Linked DNA regions of Homo sapiens: regions 1 and 2 are each linked to region 3. The links come from fine-mapping of genetic effects on gene expression. A gene starts in region 3. Each other region holds a variant in brackets. All regions are shown on one strand. Distances are from middle to middle.

Region 1 (2,766 bases), 22 kb before region 3:
TAGATATTCTTTATTGGATTAAGAAAGTTTCTTTCTATTCCTAATTTGCTAAGCATTTTTTACAAATGTAATTTAATTGTTAAGTTAAAATTTATTTTTAATAGTCTGTTCATTTTTGCGGCACAATATTCAAAAGGCAGAAAAGGATATGTAGACAAACTCTCCCTTCCACTCATGTCACCTCATAACCTAGTTCTCTGCTCTGGACACTGTAACGAGGGTCATCTCACACACACACACACACACACACACACACACACACATTCCCCCTTTATTTTTCACCCAAATGAAGACATAATATATTACTGTTCTTCATTTGGTTTTTTTTCTCTAAGAGTTTTAAAATCAAAAATGAATGTTAAATTTTGTCCAATAGTCTTCACATCTATTGGGATGATAATATAGTCTTTCTTCTTTATTGTTTTAATATGATGAATTATGTCAATTGATTTTCTAATGGTAAATCACCCTTGTATTACCAGAAGAAATCTGGCTTTGTCATGATTTAGAAGGTTTTCCATACACGCCTGGATTTAATTTGTTAATATGTTTTCAGGATTTACATATATATTCATAAAGGATGTTGTGTCATAATTTTCCTTTTCTATAGGGTCTGGTCAGGTTTTGGTTTCAAGGTTATGCTAGCTTATAATATTTTTCTATACTGGGATAGTTTGTGCAAGTTGGACCTATTTGCAACTAGTCTTCACCTTGTGGGAGGATTTTAACTACTGACAATTTTTTAAATGGTTATAAGTTTTCTATCATATCACAAATCAGTTTAGGCAAATTACGTATTTTTAGGACTTTTTCTACTTCATCTAGGTTTTCAAGTTAATTTGTTATATTTTCTTTTTTGTTTTTTTTGGGAACAGCTTTATTAGATATACCATACAATTCAGCCATTTTAAGTGTACAATTCAGGGCTGGTCGCAGTGGGTCACACCTGTAATCCCAGCACTTTGGAAGGCTGAGGTGGGCAGATCACCTGAGATCAGGAGTTCGAGACCAGCCTGGCCAACATGGTGAAACCCTGTCTCTATGAAAAACACAAAAATTAGCCAGGCATGGTGGTCTGTAATCCCAGCTCAGGAGGCTGAGGGGGGAAAAATCACATGAATCGGGCAGGCGGAGGTTGCAGTGAGCCAAGACTGCGCCATTGCACTCCAACCTGGGCAACAGAGTGAGACCCTGTCTCA[AAAAC/A]AAACAAACAAACAAACAAATAAATAAAGAGTGTAATTCATAGGCTTTTAGCATATACACAGAGTCGAACTGCCATCACCACAAGCAATTTTAGAACATTTTCATCACCTCAAAAAGAAATCTGGTACCCTGTAGCTATCCTCCTGTGCCCCCATCCTCCAATCCCTAAGCAACCACTAACCTACTTTCTGATCCTACAAATTTGCCTATTCTTCACGTTTCATATAAATGTAATCATATAATATATGATTTTTTGTAACTGATTTTCTACTTAGCATGCTGTTTTTAAGGTTCATCTATGTTCTAGCATGTATCAATACTTCATTCCTTTTATGGCTGAATAATGTTTCATTGTCCGGCTATACTACATTTTATTTATCTATTTATCAGTTGATAGATATCTGGGTTGTCTCCACCTTTTAGCAATTACAAATAGTGCTGCTATAAATATTTGTGTACAAGTCTTTGTGTGAACATAGATTTTCATTTTTCATTTCTCTTGGTGTATATCTAGGAGTGGAATTGTTGGGCCATGTGGTAACTCTATGTTTAACCTTTTGAGGAACTGCCAGGCTGTTTTCCAAAGCAGCTGCACAATTTTACATTCCCACCAGGAGAGTATGAGGTTTCTGACTTGTCCACATCCTTGTGAATACTTACTACTACCTGACTTTTTGATTTTAGTCATCCTAATGGGTGTGAAGTGGTATCTCATTGTGGCTTTGATTTGCAACCAGATGCTTAATGACGTTGAACATCTTATCATGTGCTTATTGGTCATTTTTATATCTTCTTTGAAGAAATGTCTATTCAAGTTCTTTGCCTATTTTTAAGTTGGGTTGTTTGTCTTCTTATTAATGAGTTGTAAGAGTTATATATTCTACATATAAGCCCCTTATCAGATATATTATTTGCAAATATTTTCTTCCATTCTTTGAATTCTCTTCTCACTTTTTTTTTTTTTTTTTTTTTGAGACAGAGTCTCACTCTGTTGCCCAGGCTGGAGTGCAGTGGCACAATCTTGGCTGACTGCAATCTCCACCTGCCGGGTTCAAGCGATTCTTGTGCCTCAGCCTCCCAAGTAGCTGGGATTACAGGCACATGCCACCTCGCCTGGCTAATTTTTGTATTTTTAGTAGAGATGGGATTTCACCATGTTGCCCAGGCTGGTCTTGAATTCCTGACCTTCAGCCTCCCAGAATATCCCTTCCTGGGATTACAGACGTGAGCCACCATGCCCGGCCTCTTCTCACTTCTTAATGGTGTATTTGGAGCACAAAACTTTATTTTATTTTTATTTTTATTTATTTATTTATTTTTTGAGACAGAGTCTCGCTCTTTCGCCCAGGCCGGAGTGCAGTGGCACTATCTCGGCTCACTGCAAGCTCCGCCTCCCGGGTTCATGCCATTCCTCTGCCTCAGCCTCCCGAGTAGCTGGGACTACAGGCCCACGCCACCGCGCCCGGCTAATTTTTTGTATTTTTAGTAGAGACGGGGTTTCACCGTGTTAGCCAGGATGGTCTCGACCTCCTGACCTCGTGATCTGCCTGCCTCGGCCTCCGA
Region 2 (2,766 bases), 22 kb after region 3:
TGTCCAGGGTCCCCTAGGAGGTGGGTCTTCCAGCGTCCACGACATGTGAGCCCAGTCCCGACTCCTTCGTGCCTTAGGGTTGGTAGTTAGATGGGAGAGACCTCAGCGATCACCTGATAATAATACTTGTTTTATAGTTATATTTAGTGAAAATTCACAAGTGTCAGGATTGATGCCTTTTACTCATTTTGTTCACCATTTTGTTCATGAATTCCACCCAATATCTACCTGTGTAGTTGGAGTTATTAAATTCATTGTTATATGGCAGAATTTCCCTTTCGTAAGGCCTGACGCACACCAACTCCTGCTTTTGGGATGAGTGAGATTCACACGAAGCTGGGATAACAAAAGTTTGCCTTCTGTAAGACAACTCAAAGCTCAGAGAGAGACAGAGATGCTGGGGGCATAATAACGTAAATCTAAGTGATGTACTACGAGGCAATCACTGGAGCTGTGCTAAAAGTCTGACTGTCTCTGGGTGCTTGAGGCTTAGGTTGTTTTCTTTCATCTCCTCCTTTGTGTTCACCCATTTGAAATCATCTCCATTCAGGAGAAAACAAGATGGAACCCAGTGACTGGCCACCATGGACACATGCAAGGGAGAAGGAGAAGTCCCCAGTAGGAAAAGGTGAGTCGGAGGGAGAGTTTAAAGAGCCCACGAGGCTTAGGGCTGGAGCTTGGTAGTGAAGGAAGAAGACTAAAGAGGATCCCAGGTAGACTGAAAGAGGGGCAACTGCTTGGGCAGCAGCCAGGGTTGAGAACAAAGGTTGCCAAGACCTTTGAGGAACATGAGGGGCAACCTGAATAGGGCACAGGACCCACCCCTAATCCTTCCTCTATGGTGGATGCTATGGACATTGCAACAGGCAACTGGAACCCAAGGAAAGAATCCTTGAATTTCTTGCAAGTGACTACCTGGCTAATCCTCAGACAGACACTCTTCTCCAGTTATGGTTAAAGCTTTGCCCTTCTGAAATTAAGGATATGGTAAGGGGTTTCAGTTAGATGAGGAAATTAAGGCTTAAAGAGGCAAAGCACCAAATGCAATGAGAGGACCTTATTTAGATCTTAATTCAAACAAAGATACCATTAAGAGAGAGAGAGAGAAAAACATTAGGACATTATGAGACAATTATAATTTTCAAATTTAGAAATGACTAGATATTTGATGATAATAAGACACTACTAACATTTTACACATGATAATAGTATTGTGCAATATGTTAAAAGAAGTCATCTTCTAGAGATACCTTTTTAATGGGTATAATAAAATATTTATGGGTATAATGATGCAGTGTCTGCCATTTGCCTCAGATTAATGATGGAGTTGGAGAAGTTGGATAAGGTTATAAATGGAAGAAGGTTGGCTATGGGTTGGTCATTGCTGAGGCTGAGTGATGAATAGAACATGGTTGTTAGTAAAATTATTCTATTTTTGTGTATGTTTAAAACTGTGCATAATGTTGAGGTCTAGCAACTTGTCTGTTTCTGTGGCTAGTAAGTGACGAAGGTGAAAGGGACCTAAGGGCTGTTTGTTCCCTGAACCTGTGCTCTTGATGACTTTGCTCCTCTACATCCTTCCAACCCACCTAGGGCAGGAAATGTCCTCCCTAGCATCCCCCACATGTGCTCTGTCTTCTGTCTAGACACCTTCTG[A/G]GTCAGGCCATTTCACTGGAAGATTCCTCTCCACAATGAGCTGTAACTTTGATCCCCTTATTCTGCTTCTTGTCGGAGAAGGCTTCCCTGACCACTGCCACCCCAGGCTAGAGTACGTAGCCTATGCTAAGCTTCTAAAGTGATCTATACACTCCTTCATGGGACTCATCACACTGACAGTTAGTTACCTATTCAGTGTCACCTTCTCCTCTTGGCTACAACCCCATCGAGTCAGGGTCTTACCGGCTACATTTACTGCTGTGTGTAGCTCATTGACCAGATAATTTGCCTTAGATATATGAACGCAGAAGGGGTTGGCTCTCAGTATGGCCAGGTCACTATATACGGGTGAGTTCCCTGGAAGATTGGTATCCTGGGAGGCCCAGGTCAGAGGACCCACAGAATCCTCAGTTCTTTGCTCATGGTGCTTGCTTTGGGTTAGAGATCTATGTGGTGGGTGGGTGCATGGGAAACAGTGCAAGAATTAGATTACTTCCGTGGGGTTTGACATTTTAGAAGTAACCGAGTATTGCCTGTTATTTTTCAAGGCAATAGAAAAGAAAAAACAGTGAACGCAAACATGACATATCTAATCTTTATGAACCCACCTAGGGCACTTTGAGCCTAGATTGTCTTAGAATTGCTAAAGGGTGGCTGCTTTGTCAATTTATGTGCGTTTTTGTTTTCTGTGGGAAAGCTCCTGGGATTTGGCCAAAGGGGCTGGAATTACATGCAGTGGTCCCTAGGATGCCAGATGAGTGTAGAAAACCAGCTGGGATGTGCTGCGGAGGGTGCCCTGCTGAAATCACAGCCCGGGATTTTGTGATCTGGTTCTTAGGGACAGGGGGACATGTGGGCTTACAGAAATTGTCATACTTGAACTGTTCAAGCACTACTGATGGTAGTGCTTGCTGTATTTTGTATGAAAATATTTATTCATTTTTCTATTTTCTTTTTATTATGTAAAATCAAAGATAAAACACATTTAAAAGGAAACAAAGATGGGATGCAGTGGCTCATGCCTATAATCCCAGCACTTTGGGAGGCCAAGGCAGGAGGATTGCTTGAGGCCTGGAGTTCAAAACCAGCCTGGGCAACATAGGAAGACCT
Region 3 (2,766 bases):
TAGTGGGATCCACAGCGAGGAAGGAAGCCTGGCTCTGAGGCCTTCAGCCTGTGCCTGTGAGCTGAGGTGGGAATTGGGGGAAGACAAGGACTGGGGGCCAGGAGAGGCAGTGGGGAGGGGCTGGAGAGCAGGCCAGAGACTCAGGGACCTGGTGACTCACTGGAATAGAATGTCCTCTTTCCTTTCTATTTCCCAGTGGATTCTCTGTGAGGGCTGCAGGAGGAGGGAGTGAGAGAGAGAGGGAGGCAAATTCACACTGATTTCTCCCACCTGAGGTTTCTGGGTTGGGAAAGTTGACCCTAGGCTGCCGTGCAGTGTCGATTTTCTCTGCAGTGTCCTTCAAATCCACCCCCTTCTCCATTCCCATGCCCTGCCTAGCCCAGCCCCCTCCATCCCCCTCCTGGATTCCTGCCAGCCTGCTCCCTGCAGCCCTGCCCCTTTCCCAGGCATCTCCAGGCTGATTTCACAGATGAATCAAAGATGGGGAGGAGGTTCCCCGAAAGCAGGAAACGGAAAAGGAAGCCTATGCAGGGCAGGAGAGAACCCGCTGAGCAATTGCCCTTTATTCCAGTTCAAAAATGCGGAACCACTCAGACAATCTGCAGGCGGCCTATGGCTGCGTGTACACAGGAAGAATAGGCGATGAGAAATCAAAGGAACAAATGTTAAAGCTTGAGGCATAGTCTCCTGGTGCCCTCTATCACCCCAGTTAAGGAGGTGATGTTGGTAACTCAACCTGAAACCACAGGCCCTGCAGATCAGCCCGTCGTCTCCTTCCTCCTGGTCATCCCAGTTAATACAAACAATCCAAGGAATTGGCTTCCTGTCATGGCCCACAGCCTGCTCCATGTGGAGGAGGAGCCCAGGGCCCAGATGGTCTCATCATCTCAGAAAAGGGACAGATTGAGAATATGACAGGCTATCGTTTGCTCTGAAAAGTTGCTCTCCCATTCTGTGCAAAGTGCCAGTTTCCTAATGCTGATACTAAAGAAAGTTCCCTTGGGCCTTGGAGAAACTGAAAAGGACCCAGGCTATGTGAACTTGGGCCAGCCCTCTGCCCTTTCTGGCACTTTGCACCCAGATCATTAAAACCGCAGAATCAGATGGTCGCTCTGTGGTCCCATGGTAACTGGAAAGTGCACTGAGCTAGGAGTGGAGGGAGGGCGGTCCCTCCTCGGCCATTGCTCGTGCCTGTTAACATGGCTAATTCAGAATGGGGGGCAGGTCATTTAACTTCTATGACCATAGGATCTTTTTCTATAAAATGGAGGCTATATCGCTATGCAGGGTTGCTGGGGAGGTTATATGAGATCATGTCTGGTGAGGTCCCATGCCTGGAGTTATTGTTCTCACTACTCTGTTTCCCAGAATATGGACAAAGTGGGGCTAATAGCCCAGTCTCCTTTCTGGAAGTGGTGGGGGTCTCAGGAGGTGCTGGGTGTGAAAGGGCTCTCACCTGGCAGACTAACTCAGTTGCCTGGGCCTAGCTTATTCCCCTGACCTCCTGGCAGGGAGGAGGGTGGAAAAGGCCTGGGGTGCGCATGGCGGGACGGGATAACTGCTGAGCGGGGGTTGGAGGGCTGCAGTGTGGGTCCTGGGCCCTCGCTCACAATTGGAGGAAAGAATTCAGGAAGTGCTCACAGCTGCTCAGACATCTCGGAGCCAAGTTCCAACCAGGACAGAGGCTGCAGCACCCAGGGAGGAACGCCGTGGTCCCTGGGACGGCCACCAGGCCAGGAGGCTGCAGCACCAGGTACAGCCAGGGCTGGCCTTTGGGGAGCCCAGGGTAAATCTTAATAGTTCAAGAATGTGAGCAACGGGCTAAGCAGGCAGCAAAGAGGGTGGGTGAGGCCGGCATCTAAGAAGGCTCTTCCGGGACCTCCGGGTAAAGAGCCCCACGGTCATGGACAGGGCAGGGATTCCCGGGGAAGCACCTGATACTCTATCTAAACTGCATGATCCCAGCGCCATGCAGAAAAGGACGCCAAATGCAACCTGCCCCTGCCTCCAGCCCCCACTAAAGGCCCTGGCACCTGGGGTGACCCGTGAGTGTCCCCTGCCTTGCCCAGAGCTGGCGCATGCCTTCCTCCCTCCTCATGTCCCTGCCCCCAGCACAGGGCCAGGGGCTGGGGAGGCAGCAGATAGGCCAATTGAAGGACTGGCCCAAGGTCCCTCCTGGGGAGGAGCCGGGCTCCTCCTGCATCCATAGTAGGGGGAGTATTTTGTCTTTGGTCTGGGCGTAACTTGCTCTTGAAATCTGTAGGCGTCACCGGAGGGCCAGCGCTGGCTAGGCTGTCTCTGTGCAACGTCTTCTGACCCCTCCTCTCCACCTTCTCTGTGTCCAGGGAATCTGTGCTCACGTCTTCCAGGACAGTGCTTCTTCTAGAAGCTGACATGGAGCTGACCACAGCTCTTGGAGGCATGGCCTGAGGCTTAGAAAATAGACAGAGATCATCTGAGATTTCAGCAGTGGGGCCACGTGGCAGCGCCCGAAGGCCTGGAGCAGGAGCGACCCAGGGACTCAGAGCAGCATCTTCTTAGGAGACGGAAGGAGAGCCGCCGGAGGAGCACGGGGCACCTGCGATCGCGAAGAGCCTCCTGTTCTGGATGGGAGCGAAGGCTCCGAGAGGACCTAAGGTTGCTCAGTGGGCCATGGAAACGGCAGTGATTGGGGTGGTGGTGGTGCTGTTCGTGGTGACTGTGGCCATCACCTGCGTCCTCTGCTGCTTCAGCTGTGACTCAAGGGCCCAGGATCCTCAGGGGGGT

Direction of the effects. Alleles are on the strand shown, and positions count from the first base shown. SD is a standard deviation of normalised expression in the study named. Not every link is listed here.
As copies of AAAAC replace A in region 1, the expression in subcutaneous fat of the gene that starts at base 1,679 in region 3 goes down (moderate effect, 0.65 SD a copy in TwinsUK).

Evidence for each region. PIP is the estimated chance that this variant, and not a neighbour inherited with it, causes the effect.
Region 1: its variant is fine-mapped to the expression of SPAAR in subcutaneous fat (TwinsUK, PIP 0.95).
Region 2: its variant is fine-mapped to the expression of SPAAR in visceral fat (GTEx, PIP 0.91).

What each region holds. Positions count from the first base shown.
Region 1 is chr9:35,885,474-35,888,239 of GRCh38, forward strand. No RefSeq gene overlaps it. Among named protein-coding and RNA genes, the nearest start is that of OR13J1, 16 kb to the left of the region's middle. The variant AAAAC/A (reference allele first, on the strand shown) is at 1,200.
Region 2 is chr9:35,929,507-35,932,272 of GRCh38, forward strand. No RefSeq gene overlaps it. Among named protein-coding and RNA genes, the nearest start is that of SPAAR, 21 kb to the left of the region's middle. The variant A/G (reference allele first, on the strand shown) is at 1,657.
Region 3 is chr9:35,907,812-35,910,577 of GRCh38, forward strand. SPAAR (small regulatory polypeptide of amino acid response) reads left to right here and starts at 1,679. Exons shown (of 2, transcript NM_001348107.3): 1 at 1,679-1,753; 2 at 2,346-2,766. The coding sequence starts at 2,653. RefSeq lists an enhancer at 2,351-2,766.